3 linked regions of the Homo sapiens genome follow. The protein of the gene in region 1 purifies or fractionates together with the protein of each later gene. This does not show direct contact. Each region holds a gene or a part of one and is shown on either strand. Other genes may lie near its edges.

The links.
Region 2: the proteins of ZAR1L (region 1) and FAM117A purify together in Homo sapiens (affinity purification with mass spectrometry; one large-scale study listed by BioGRID and IntAct). This does not show direct contact.
Region 3: the proteins of ZAR1L (region 1) and AMBRA1 purify together in Homo sapiens (co-immunoprecipitation; one large-scale study listed by IntAct). This does not show direct contact.

The regions. Positions count from the first base shown.
Region 1 is NC_000013.11:32,313,039-32,316,863, forward strand, and holds the start of ZAR1L (protein ZAR1-like), read right to left. Parts: upstream 2,326-3,825; 5' UTR 2,277-2,325; intron 2,108-2,276; exon of another isoform or gene 2,039-2,107; intron 1,513-2,038; 5' UTR 1,292-1,512; intron 1-1,291. Other genes in the region: BRCA2 (breast cancer type 2 susceptibility protein), read left to right, coding at 3,423-3,489. UniProt on the Homo sapiens protein: mRNA-binding protein required for maternal mRNA storage, translation and degradation during oocyte maturation.
Region 2 is NC_000017.11:49,729,632-49,733,131, reverse strand, and holds part of FAM117A (protein FAM117A), read left to right. Parts: intron 1-411; coding exon 412-581; intron 582-3,500.
Region 3 is NC_000011.10:46,429,877-46,433,601, forward strand, and holds part of AMBRA1 (activating molecule in BECN1-regulated autophagy protein 1), read right to left. Parts: coding exon 3,598-3,725; intron 1,212-3,597; exon of another isoform or gene 1,015-1,211; intron 1-1,014. UniProt on the Homo sapiens protein: Substrate-recognition component of a DCX (DDB1-CUL4-X-box) E3 ubiquitin-protein ligase complex involved in cell cycle control and autophagy.

The sequences.
Region 1 (3,825 bases):
AAGTAGAATGGTGGTTACCAGGGACAGGAAGTTGGGGGGAATGGAGAGAGACTGGTCAGAGCCTAAAATGTTACAGTTAGGTAGAATGAATGAGTCTAGAGATCTAATTTACAGCATAACGACTACAGTTAACAATACTGTATTTTATACTGAAAAGTTTCAAAGAGAAATTTCAGGTGCTCTCACCGCACACAAAAGAAAGGTAATTATGTGAACAGATGGATATGTTAATTGCTTGACTATAGTAATCATCTCACTGTGTACATATACATGTTGTGCACATTAAATATATACAACTTTTAGGAAATAATGGTTTTTTGGGTTTTTGTTTGTTTGCTTGTTTGAAATGGAGTTTCCTTGCTCTGTCTCCCAGGCAGGAGTGCAGTGGCATGATTTCGGCTCACTGCAACTTCCGCCTCTGGGGTTCAAGTGATTCTCCCACCTCAGCCTCCCAAGTAGCTGGGATTACAGGCACATGCCACCACACCCAGTTAATTTTTGTATTTTTAGTAGAGACAGGGTTTTGCCATGTTGGCCAGGCTGGTCTCGAACTCCTGACCTCAGGTGATCTGCCCACCTTGGCCTCCCAAAGTGCTGTGATTACAGGCGTGAGCCACCATGCCCAGCTGGAAATAATGTTTTTAAGAAAAATTAAAGCATATTGTAAATTGAATACAAATAGTAAATTGAGCAGCTGCACTAGAAGAGAATAGGTGAGAAAGTCTATTATGGTGGAGCTAATAAGTTGCAAGTCCCTGGTACAAAGAGAACAAGAAACATAAAGGTATGGGGGGCTGTATAAAATGACAGAAAATGTTATTTCTGAGACTTGTGTGACATGCCACGGGTTCTCATTAGTCCACTCCTAGTGAGACACCCCTCCCCCACAAAAAGGGGACAAAGCATATTGTTCTGATTTATAGGGTAAATAAATCACAGGTTAGTTAAGTGTATGAAGTCAAATGGACTAGAATTCAAACCTGGGCCTTACTACCAGGCACATTACTTAACTACTTGATTCAGTATCCTCATCTGACAATACTGACCAATTTACAGGATTACTGTAAGATTAAACATGGTATTGCTTGAAAACCCAAAGCAGAATGCCTAACTCATAAAATGTTTGGTAAGTGGCAGCTGTTATTAGTAAGGATCACAGACGTATTTCTTTGCGAATTAGACTTAGAGCAAAAGCTTTAGAATCTATCTGCATTAGTAAGGCCTCCTTCTACAACTAAGGATTACTGATTATCAAACTAAAATGGTCCCTAAGGAACCAAGCGGAGCCCACCCTTTTCCTAATCCAAGGTTGCTTCTGTTTACTGCTCAAGCACCTTCTGGAAGCAGCAAGGCCCCCATGGGAGCAACTCTCACTGAATCCATTTGAAGGTTTTGTAGGTCTTACAACAAACCCTATTCAGCCTTGTATTAGGCATGTTACAGAACCAACGAATTCGGAGATGAAGTCAGGTCTTCCAGTTCAGCCTGCGAGGAAGACAGGTGATCCGAATCCTAAGAATGCAAAAGATGGGCCGGGTGTGGTGGCTCATGCCTGTAATCCCAGCGCTTTGGGAGGCCGAGGCAGGCAGATCACCTGAGGTCGGGAGGTTGAGACCAGACTGACCAACAACGGAGAAACCCCGTCTCTACTTAAAAATGCAAAGTTAGCCGTGCGTGGTGGCCCATGCCTGTATTCCCAGCTACTCGGGAGGCTGAGGCAGGAGAACCACTTGATCCCTGGAGGCGGAAGTTGCGGTGAGCGGAGATTGCGCCATTGCACACCAGCCCGGGCCACAAGAGCGAAACTCCGTCTCAAAAAAAAAAGCAAAAGATACTACCAAGCCCTGCGGAGCAAGGTACCTCACACTTCATGAGCGAGTTAAGATGGGTTTCACAATTTTTCAAGCAAGGAAACGGGCTCGGAGGTCTTGAACACCTGCTACCCAATAGCAGAACAGCTACTGGAACTAAAATCCTCTGATTTCAAATAACAGCCCCGCCCACTACCACTAAGTGAAGTCATCCACAACCACACACCGACCACTCTAAGCTTTTGTAAGATCGGCTCGCTTTGGGGAACAGGTCTTGAGAGAACATCCCTTTTAAGGTCAGAACAAAGGTATTTCATAGGTCCCAGGTCGTGTCCCGAGGGCGCCCACCCAAACATGAGCTGGAGCAAAAAGAAAGGGATGGGGGACTTGGAGTAGGCATAGGGGCGGCCCCTCCAAGCAGGGTGGCCTGGGACTCTTAAGGGTCAGCGAGAAGAGAACACACACTCCAGCTCCCGCTTTATTCGGTCAGATACTGACGGTTGGGATGCCTGACAAGGAATTTCCTTTCGCCACACTGAGAAATACCCGCAGCGGCCCACCCAGGCCTGACTTCCGGGTGGTGCGTGTGCTGCGTGTCGCGTCACGGCGTCACGTGGCCAGCGCGGGCTTGTGGCGCGAGCTTCTGAAACTAGGCGGCAGAGGCGGAGCCGCTGTGGCACTGCTGCGCCTCTGCTGCGCCTCGGGTGTCTTTTGCGGCGGTGGGTCGCCGCCGGGAGAAGCGTGAGGGGACAGATTTGTGACCGGCGCGGTTTTTGTCAGCTTACTCCGGCCAAAAAAGAACTGCACCTCTGGAGCGGGTTAGTGGTGGTGGTAGTGGGTTGGGACGAGCGCGTCTTCCGCAGTCCCAGTCCAGCGTGGCGGGGGAGCGCCTCACGCCCCGGGTCGCTGCCGCGGCTTCTTGCCCTTTTGTCTCTGCCAACCCCCACCCATGCCTGAGAGAAAGGTCCTTGCCCGAAGGCAGATTTTCGCCAAGCAAATTCGAGCCCCGCCCCTTCCCTGGGTCTCCATTTCCCGCCTCCGGCCCGGCCTTTGGGCTCCGCCTTCAGCTCAAGACTTAACTTCCCTCCCAGCTGTCCCAGATGACGCCATCTGAAATTTCTTGGAAACACGATCACTTTAACGGAATATTGCTGTTTTGGGGAAGTGTTTTACAGCTGCTGGGCACGCTGTATTTGCCTTACTTAAGCCCCTGGTAATTGCTGTATTCCGAAGACATGCTGATGGGAATTACCAGGCGGCGTTGGTCTCTAACTGGAGCCCTCTGTCCCCACTAGCCACGCGTCACTGGTTAGCGTGATTGAAACTAAATCGTATGAAAATCCTCTTCTCTAGTCGCACTAGCCACGTTTCGAGTGCTTAATGTGGCTAGTGGCACCGGTTTGGACAGCACAGCTGTAAAATGTTCCCATCCTCACAGTAAGCTGTTACCGTTCCAGGAGATGGGACTGAATTAGAATTCAAACAAATTTTCCAGCGCTTCTGAGTTTTACCTCAGTCACATAATAAGGAATGCATCCCTGTGTAAGTGCATTTTGGTCTTCTGTTTTGCAGACTTATTTACCAAGCATTGGAGGAATATCGTAGGTAAAAATGCCTATTGGATCCAAAGAGAGGCCAACATTTTTTGAAATTTTTAAGACACGCTGCAACAAAGCAGGTATTGACAAATTTTATATAACTTTATAAATTACACCGAGAAAGTGTTTTCTAAAAAATGCTTGCTAAAAACCCAGTACGTCACAGTGTTGCTTAGAACCATAAACTGTTCCTTATGTGTGTATAAATCCAGTTAACAACATAATCATCGTTTGCAGGTTAACCACATGATAAATATAGAACGTCTAGTGGATAAAGAGGAAACTGGCCCCTTGACTAGCAGTAGGAACAATTACTAACAAATCAGAAGCATTAATGTTACTTTATGGCAGAAGTTGTCCAACTTTTTGGTTTCAGTACTCCTTATACTCTTAAAAATGATCTAGGACCCCCGGAG
Region 2 (3,500 bases), on another chromosome or scaffold:
AAGGGCAGGAGATAAAAGATGGAAGAAAATTTGTTTTTTATCCACTTAGAGTTTTATCTTTAATGATGGGAAACAGTGCTGCTCTCAGGAAACTCAGTGTGGAGATCTAGGAGTTCACGGTTCATAGTCCATTAGGAGCAGGAAAAGGATAGAGGACATTTATAAAGTAACATCCAAGTCCAAAGTAAAATGGTATAAATTGTTTCCCATGATAAAGGCTGGCTGAGTAGGTCAGGAAAGGTCTTGTCAGACCATATGTGCTGTTTCAGGCTGCTTCAAATTCTTTTAGGACAGTGGTGGATATGAGTGAAGACGGGGCAGGCAGGCCACATCTCTTAGAAGAGGAAGGTGATTGCCACGTCTCCTTCCTCCATGCTGATGGCAAGGCGTGCGGGCTGTGTTCTCTTGCAGCCAGCGTCCCATGCTCGGTGGCCCCAGAAAAGTCAGTGTGTAGGCCTCAGCCACTTCAGGTCCGGCGTACATTCTCCCTGGACACCATCCTCAGCTCCTACCTTCTGGGCCAGTGGCCACGAGATGCTGATGGGGCCTTCACCTGCTGCACCAATGACAAGGCCACCCAGGTAATGAAGCTCTCTCCTGATGGGATAAGGGATAAGGATGGGGCGGGAGAGCTGGCTGAGGAGGCCTTTGGTCTTCCTCAAGTCATTGCGATGATTTGTCTTGGGTTTTGGTCGTACATATTATCCATGTAATGTTTTATCTTCTTAAGACAGAGTTTCCTTTTGTCACCCAGGCTGGAGTGCAGTGGTGCGATCTTGGCTCACTGCAACCTCTGCCTCCCGGGTTCAAGTGATTCTCGTGCCTCATCCTCCCAAGTGGCTGGGATTACAGGTGCCTGCTACCACGCCCTGCTAATTTACCACCGTTTTTCTTTGTAAACTTATATGGAAATGAGTTTGCATTCCACCTGCCTGGTGGAAGAGAGAAGTCAATCTGGGTTTTTCAGTTTAGCTTTGAGTATTTGTGTCGGGGTAATCAACAGCTGACTTTAGAGTTTATTCTAGCTTTTTAAAAAATGAGATTTAGGCTGGGCGCAGTGGCTCACGCCTATAATCTCAGCACTTTTGGAGGCCTAGGCAGGCGGATCACCTGAGGTCAAGAGTTTGAAACCAGCCTGGCTAACATGGTGAAACCCCGTCTCTACTAAAAATACAAAAATTAGCTGGGCGTGGTGGTGGGTGCCTGCAGTCCCAGCTACTTGGGAGGCTGAGGCGGGAGAATCGCTTGAACCTTGGAGGGAGAGGTTGCAGTGAGCTGAGATCACGCCATTGCATTCCATCCTGGGTGACAGAGCAAGACTCCATCTCAAAAAAATAAAAAAAATAAAAAATGAGATTTACCTTGCTAAAATTAAACCAAGGCCAACATTCTATTGAGTTTGTATTTCCCAAAGAAGTGGCCAAAAAGTATGCTGAGCCAGAATAGATCCCACTGGAGCCATAGGAATGGGAAGTTCTCAGATAATGGAGAATTCTTCCTTGCCAGCAGCCCCGACTGGGATTTCAGTGTACCCATTCAAGGACTGGGGAGCCAGCTTCCTCTCCTTCAGTATTTTCATTAAGACAGTCTTTTCATTAAGAATCCCAAGCTCGGAAAGAATCTCTGCAGATCATCCAGTTCATTTACCAATTTTTGGATAAGCTAGCACGAACGTATCTCATATGTGAAATTATACAGACATTTCTTAATCTGATTCAGGACTTCATTCTTAGCAGCTAAGTTGTTAAGAGTCAAATCTCCCTTTTGATGCAGTTTAAACGCACTCTTGTTCATCTTCAGAGCAAATGAGTTATTTCGAGATAGGCAGAAACAGGGTGGCTAGGACATGAGGGTCCGAGTCAGCCCTTCACCCTGGGGGACATTGGGCAAGTCAGCTCTTCCTTTGCAAACTGGGTGGAGAGTGCGTGGTCTGCCTCTGTGTAGGTGGCATGATGGCCAAATGACACATGAAAGTGCTTGGTACCTCTTCTGACCACATCATGTCAGTTTCTTTCCTTTATTTATTTTGTTAATGCGATCCATTTTCAAATGTTGTTAGTGAATGTTTGAATGCCCAGTACTGTTCTTGGCATGTTGGAATGAAGAATAAGGAAATGAGGACAAGATTTGGCCTCCATGAGTCTGGATTCCAGTTCTATGAGGGCCAGTAAACAGACAGCCAAGGGATGAGATGGAGCCAAATATCTGGCAAAGTTTAAAGAAGGGGAATTCTCATGGGAATACCCCACCTTGAATCAACAAGAATTTGCTGCAGTTAAAATCATGGCCCTCTTTGGATCTACAAATAGACTGTGAAAGGAGAATACCCTCCAGGAAGGAGAGAGAGTAGGCTTCCTTCCTGGGAGCCCTGGGCACTGCCATTCCCTTTATCCTTTGGAAAAGGCAAGTAGGATAAATTATGCTTCCTCCTCACAGGCCTGGGAGCACACATAACTTTGTCTTTTGATAGGAGTGCTTAGTTCAAATATGTTTGTAGTCAAGGAGGGCTTCCTGGAGGAACAGGACTTGAGATTCCTTTGAGTGTGTAAGCTCATTATTGCATCCCTGTTTGTCAGATGGCAGGCTTCTGTGTAGCCCACCTATTTCTGCCTCTGTCATTTCCTGCTTTCAGCCTTCTAGGAAGTCACCATCCCACTCCTCAGATAGCTTTCTCTTTGTCAACTGAAGGCAGGGTTGGCCTCAGATGTTCCCTGGCTGAGTTTAGAGGCATGGGCCCTAGGCTGTGTGTTTTTGCTCAGGCTCCAGCTGTAGGCCAGATCTTTTATATAACAAGTCTGGGCTTCTTGCCACAGCAAGACAGAGGTCAGCGATGAGCCTCCGTGGGTCTGGCAAGGCCAAGCCATGCAGCTTTCCTCTTTCCCTGGGATGGGCTCCAGCCCTCGAGGAACTCTTAGCAACCTGTCAATATTGTGGCCGCAGTCAGGAGGTGGAGAATGCTGATCAACCTAGGCATCCAAACCAAAATATGCACTCTACCCATCTTTCATTCCTGGTCTTCTGGGAATTTGCTGCTTCTAGGTTTTGGGCTCCATTCAAATTCCTGCTTAAGCCCCCGGGCCTGGTCCAAGCTACCCTCTTCAACACTGGTATTACACTGTGGAGGTCTGAGGCTCACCTGACATATTCCTAAGTAACTGGTGTTCCTTTCCTATTGAGTACTGGGATATCACCCAGAAAGGACTGGAGAGGAAGGAGAGGTTTGACTGGGAAGACATGAAGGTGTCTGGAGAGGGGAAGAGGGAAGGGAGGGTGGCAGGATCTACCAAAGTCCTTGAAAGCTTTTAAGCTGTTAAAAATGGACTAATATGGCCAGGCATGGTGGCTCACGCCTGTAATCCCAGCACTTTGGGAGGCCGAGGTGGGCAGATCACAAGGTCAGGAGGTCGAGACCATCCTGGCCAACATGGTGAAACCCCATCTCTACTAAAAATACAAAAATTAGCTGGGCATGGTGACTCACATCTGTAGTCCCAGCTACT
Region 3 (3,725 bases), on another chromosome or scaffold:
AAATTAACAAAAAGCCCTCTCTGGCTCAAGCAGAAGGGAATCAGACAGAAAATAAGATTCTGAGTCATAGAGAGTAGCATATCCAGTCTGGAGGAATCGCAAATGGACAGTGGGAAGGGAGAGAGAAAATATGTGCCCAGTCTTACTTTCCTGACTTACCCATCATTAAAACTGGGAGGACTAGCACGATAAACAGAGAAGGGAAAGATCAAAAGGACCCTAGATCCTAGAAATAAGGACAAAAATTAAAATGATTCAACATAAAGAAAAGACTCCAGCACATACAGCTATTCAAGGGAGAAACCTGGAAAGCAGCAACAGCCTAGAAAAGATGGGAGGTGAGGCGCAGACAGCCAAAAAAGCTGAGTTTGGTAGGAAACAGAAGACAAACACCACTGTGCCTGCAACATAATTAGCAAAGAATCAAAGCACCATGCACAAAACCACAATGGCAAGTAGACCTGAGACTGACTCTGCCTTGCTGAGGAGGCTGAGGGCAGACACCTAAAATGAAGAAATCTTGTTTTAAAAATACTAATCCTGGGTCCCTCTGACTCCCATTCTTATTCTGATTTTAGGTCTGAAATGGATCTGTATTTTAATAAGGACCCATGTAGTTCTACTGTAAGTTGTCCAAGAACCACAGTTTGAGAAGCACTGATCCAGAAGTCTGAAGAACTGCTTAGAGTAAGTGCATCAAGGCTAATAGCAATTAGCAATTCATTTTCAGAAGAGTTTTCATATGGGATTGTGTCAGAGATCATCTCTTGGGGAGAGATGTCACTTAGTGCCATCTTAAAATAAATCAATGCTCTGGAGGATGTTCTCCTGGGAATGTCTGTTGGCCCAACACATTTGCCTCTCTGAACATTACCACAGTGAATTCCAAGAGGTAACACCAGACAGAAGGGGAATTCTGGGTAGCAAAGCTCTAGGACAGGCCCATTACCCACTAAAGCATTCCTTTATGGTCAGAGCTTGACATTAGAGATGGAGACACCCACCTATACTTACCTGTGCAAAGAGGGAGATGCTGTACTGTCCCATTAAACCCTTGCTCCCTGTTCTCAGACAAAAATTCACTTCTTGCCTTAAACGGTGATACAGCACAGCTATCCAAAAAAGCTGGTGTCTTCCCTTCCACCAATCACTGAATTCAGGGACATTTGCTGAGTGATCTGGTGCCTTTGGACGTAAGGGGCAACCAAGACCTGGAAAACCAGAAACCTTTCTGTAGCATGGGGGTTTAAAGTCAGACTGGGTGGACACTTGGTTGACCTAAACCTTGTTGAGATGCCTTGATCCTGTCTCTTGGGTGACAGGAACACTTCCCAAATGGGAACTTTCTAGGTACTTCAGCTCCCTTTCTTAGTGCTTGGTGGCAGATGGTACCTACTGAGAATCAAAAAAGGTTCACCAGGCAGCCTGGCAGTAGTAGTAGCTCCAGTCACCAAGCATGCAGCTGCTGGCTAGCTGCCTTGAGACCCTTGGCAGGACAGCCAGGGGCTGACTGGATTACCACATCTCCTCAGCAGAGAACCACATTCCTTGAGCTGCCAGCCCCATATGTGACAACAGATCCCATCACCTTGGCTTCTGCTTTGTAACTGTTTGTCTTCAGCCAGATGTTTCTGGCTACTATGGAAAAGTGGAACTGTGCTAAGATGGAGAACTGGCAGGCTGTGTGCAGGAGCTGGGCAAGAGCCCTGGCTTATGAAAGAAGCTAGAGAGGTCTGTCAGAGCTACCAACATCAGATTCTGTCTCTTAATGATTTAAACGATTATTCCACAATTAGGCCGGAAGGGTTAGAAGAGCAGCTGTTGGGACTGGGATTCCAGGTGGTGAAAAGCAGAGACCAGCTTCTGCTTAAGAGAAGCAAAAGAAGAATATTTAAATGAAAACTCAACTTCCATCCTCAAATATCTAGATAAGAAAATAGACTTGATGAACATCCCACAATGACATCTCCTATTCACCCAATGTCAAATATTTCCAGCCATATGGAATTCAAGATCAGAACTTTCTTGTCATTGTGATATCAAGAGGACAGAATGACTTGTTTTCCTTTCAGAAGCTTGGTGGGACATGATGTTATGTTACCCATCATTGGTTCTGCTAGTTACCACCTAGAAATGATAAAGAGGATGCTTTATTTTTATTTATTTATTTTTTTTTGAGATTCTCTTTCATTCATTCATTCACTTTCTACTAAGTGTCAGGTTCCGCATGAAGTTCTTGGACTTCATAAAGATAAAACAGACACAGTCTCTATTCTCAAGGAGCTCACAGCCCAGGAGAAGAGAGTGACATGGAAACAAATAACTGCAGTTTGGTGTGACAAGTACTGACATGAGAATGTGTAAGAGGTACAATGATAGCACAAGGAACGAGTGATCAATTCTATTAAGATGGATGCCACAGAAAGTAAAAAGCTTGCAGGTAGCTGGAGATAGGGGACAGGAGGGCATTCCAAGTAAAGGTACCCTGGCAAGAAGGCACTTTGACAAATTCAAGAAGCTTGAAAAGTGGCTCAGTGTAGTTGGACAGAGGATATCTGTAGGAGACAGGAGGGAGAAGAGGCTGGAGAGGAAAGGACCACACCAGGCCACCCACTTTCTATCACTTTGTATATAATGGGTGCTATCTCTAGTTTTTTTATTTAAAACAAATGCTTCCCATTCCAGATATTCAACAGCCATCTACATGCACAGCACTAAATGAGGGACCTGAGGGATATCCCTCTAAGGAGCTTACACTGAACCGAATTGGGTGGATTAAACACATACGCTACACAGCTAAAGAAGACAAAAAATGGACCAACAAGTACATCCAACTATAAATGGTACAGATTGCACAAAGTACTAAGGAAATTCACAGGTTCTTGGATTCTGACAAAGCTTGAATACTATCTAATTAGAGAACTGTTCAAATGCTTGAATCCCCTTGACAAAACCCTGGCTAAATGAGCACCTATGGGACGTGGGACGTTCACTCAGGCACGTTAGTCTGGCTGAGGCCAAAAGGCCACGAACCACAGGATGCCCAGAAGGCTTTTATGGCAATATAAGAGAGACGTGCCTTAGACAAGACAGGGTCCTAGACAGGACCTTTTCTCCACTGGTGAAATGAATGGGATGATTAAGAATACAGCAACTGCCTAAAGTCTTCATCTTCCATCATAATTATAACCCACAGAAAAAAAACATTTCATGGCATACTATTACTTTTTACAGCTTGTTCCCTCACACACACACACAAAAAGCTTTAAAAATAAGCATTTCATTGGGTCCTTTATGCATCTCCAGATTAAAAGTTTCACGTAGAAGTAAGGAAGTATTCAGTTTATCTGAAGATACTTGCAGGCCTCTGGGGAATGCAGCACATATTCTAGGGTGTGAGGAAAGGCCTTTGATAGTCCAGAGCTTCCACAAATGAAGCCTGCTGGTCATGGATGGGCTTGACTACAGCCCTTCCTTACTCCTTATGACTGTGTGATAGCTCTGGTCCTGGCTGGGAGGTCACACCACTGTCCCCTCATTACCCTTCCAAGCCTAGGGGAGCTGCCATACAGTGAAGGCACAAGCAATGGCACTCACCCTCATGGAGGTCTCTCCACCATGGGCCTGTTGCAGCCTGAAGACCTGGGCCACCATGTGCTCTGTGGAGGGGTGCAGCAGGATCCTTCGTGAGGCCAAGCCCACCATTACATATCTGCCCATTGGGG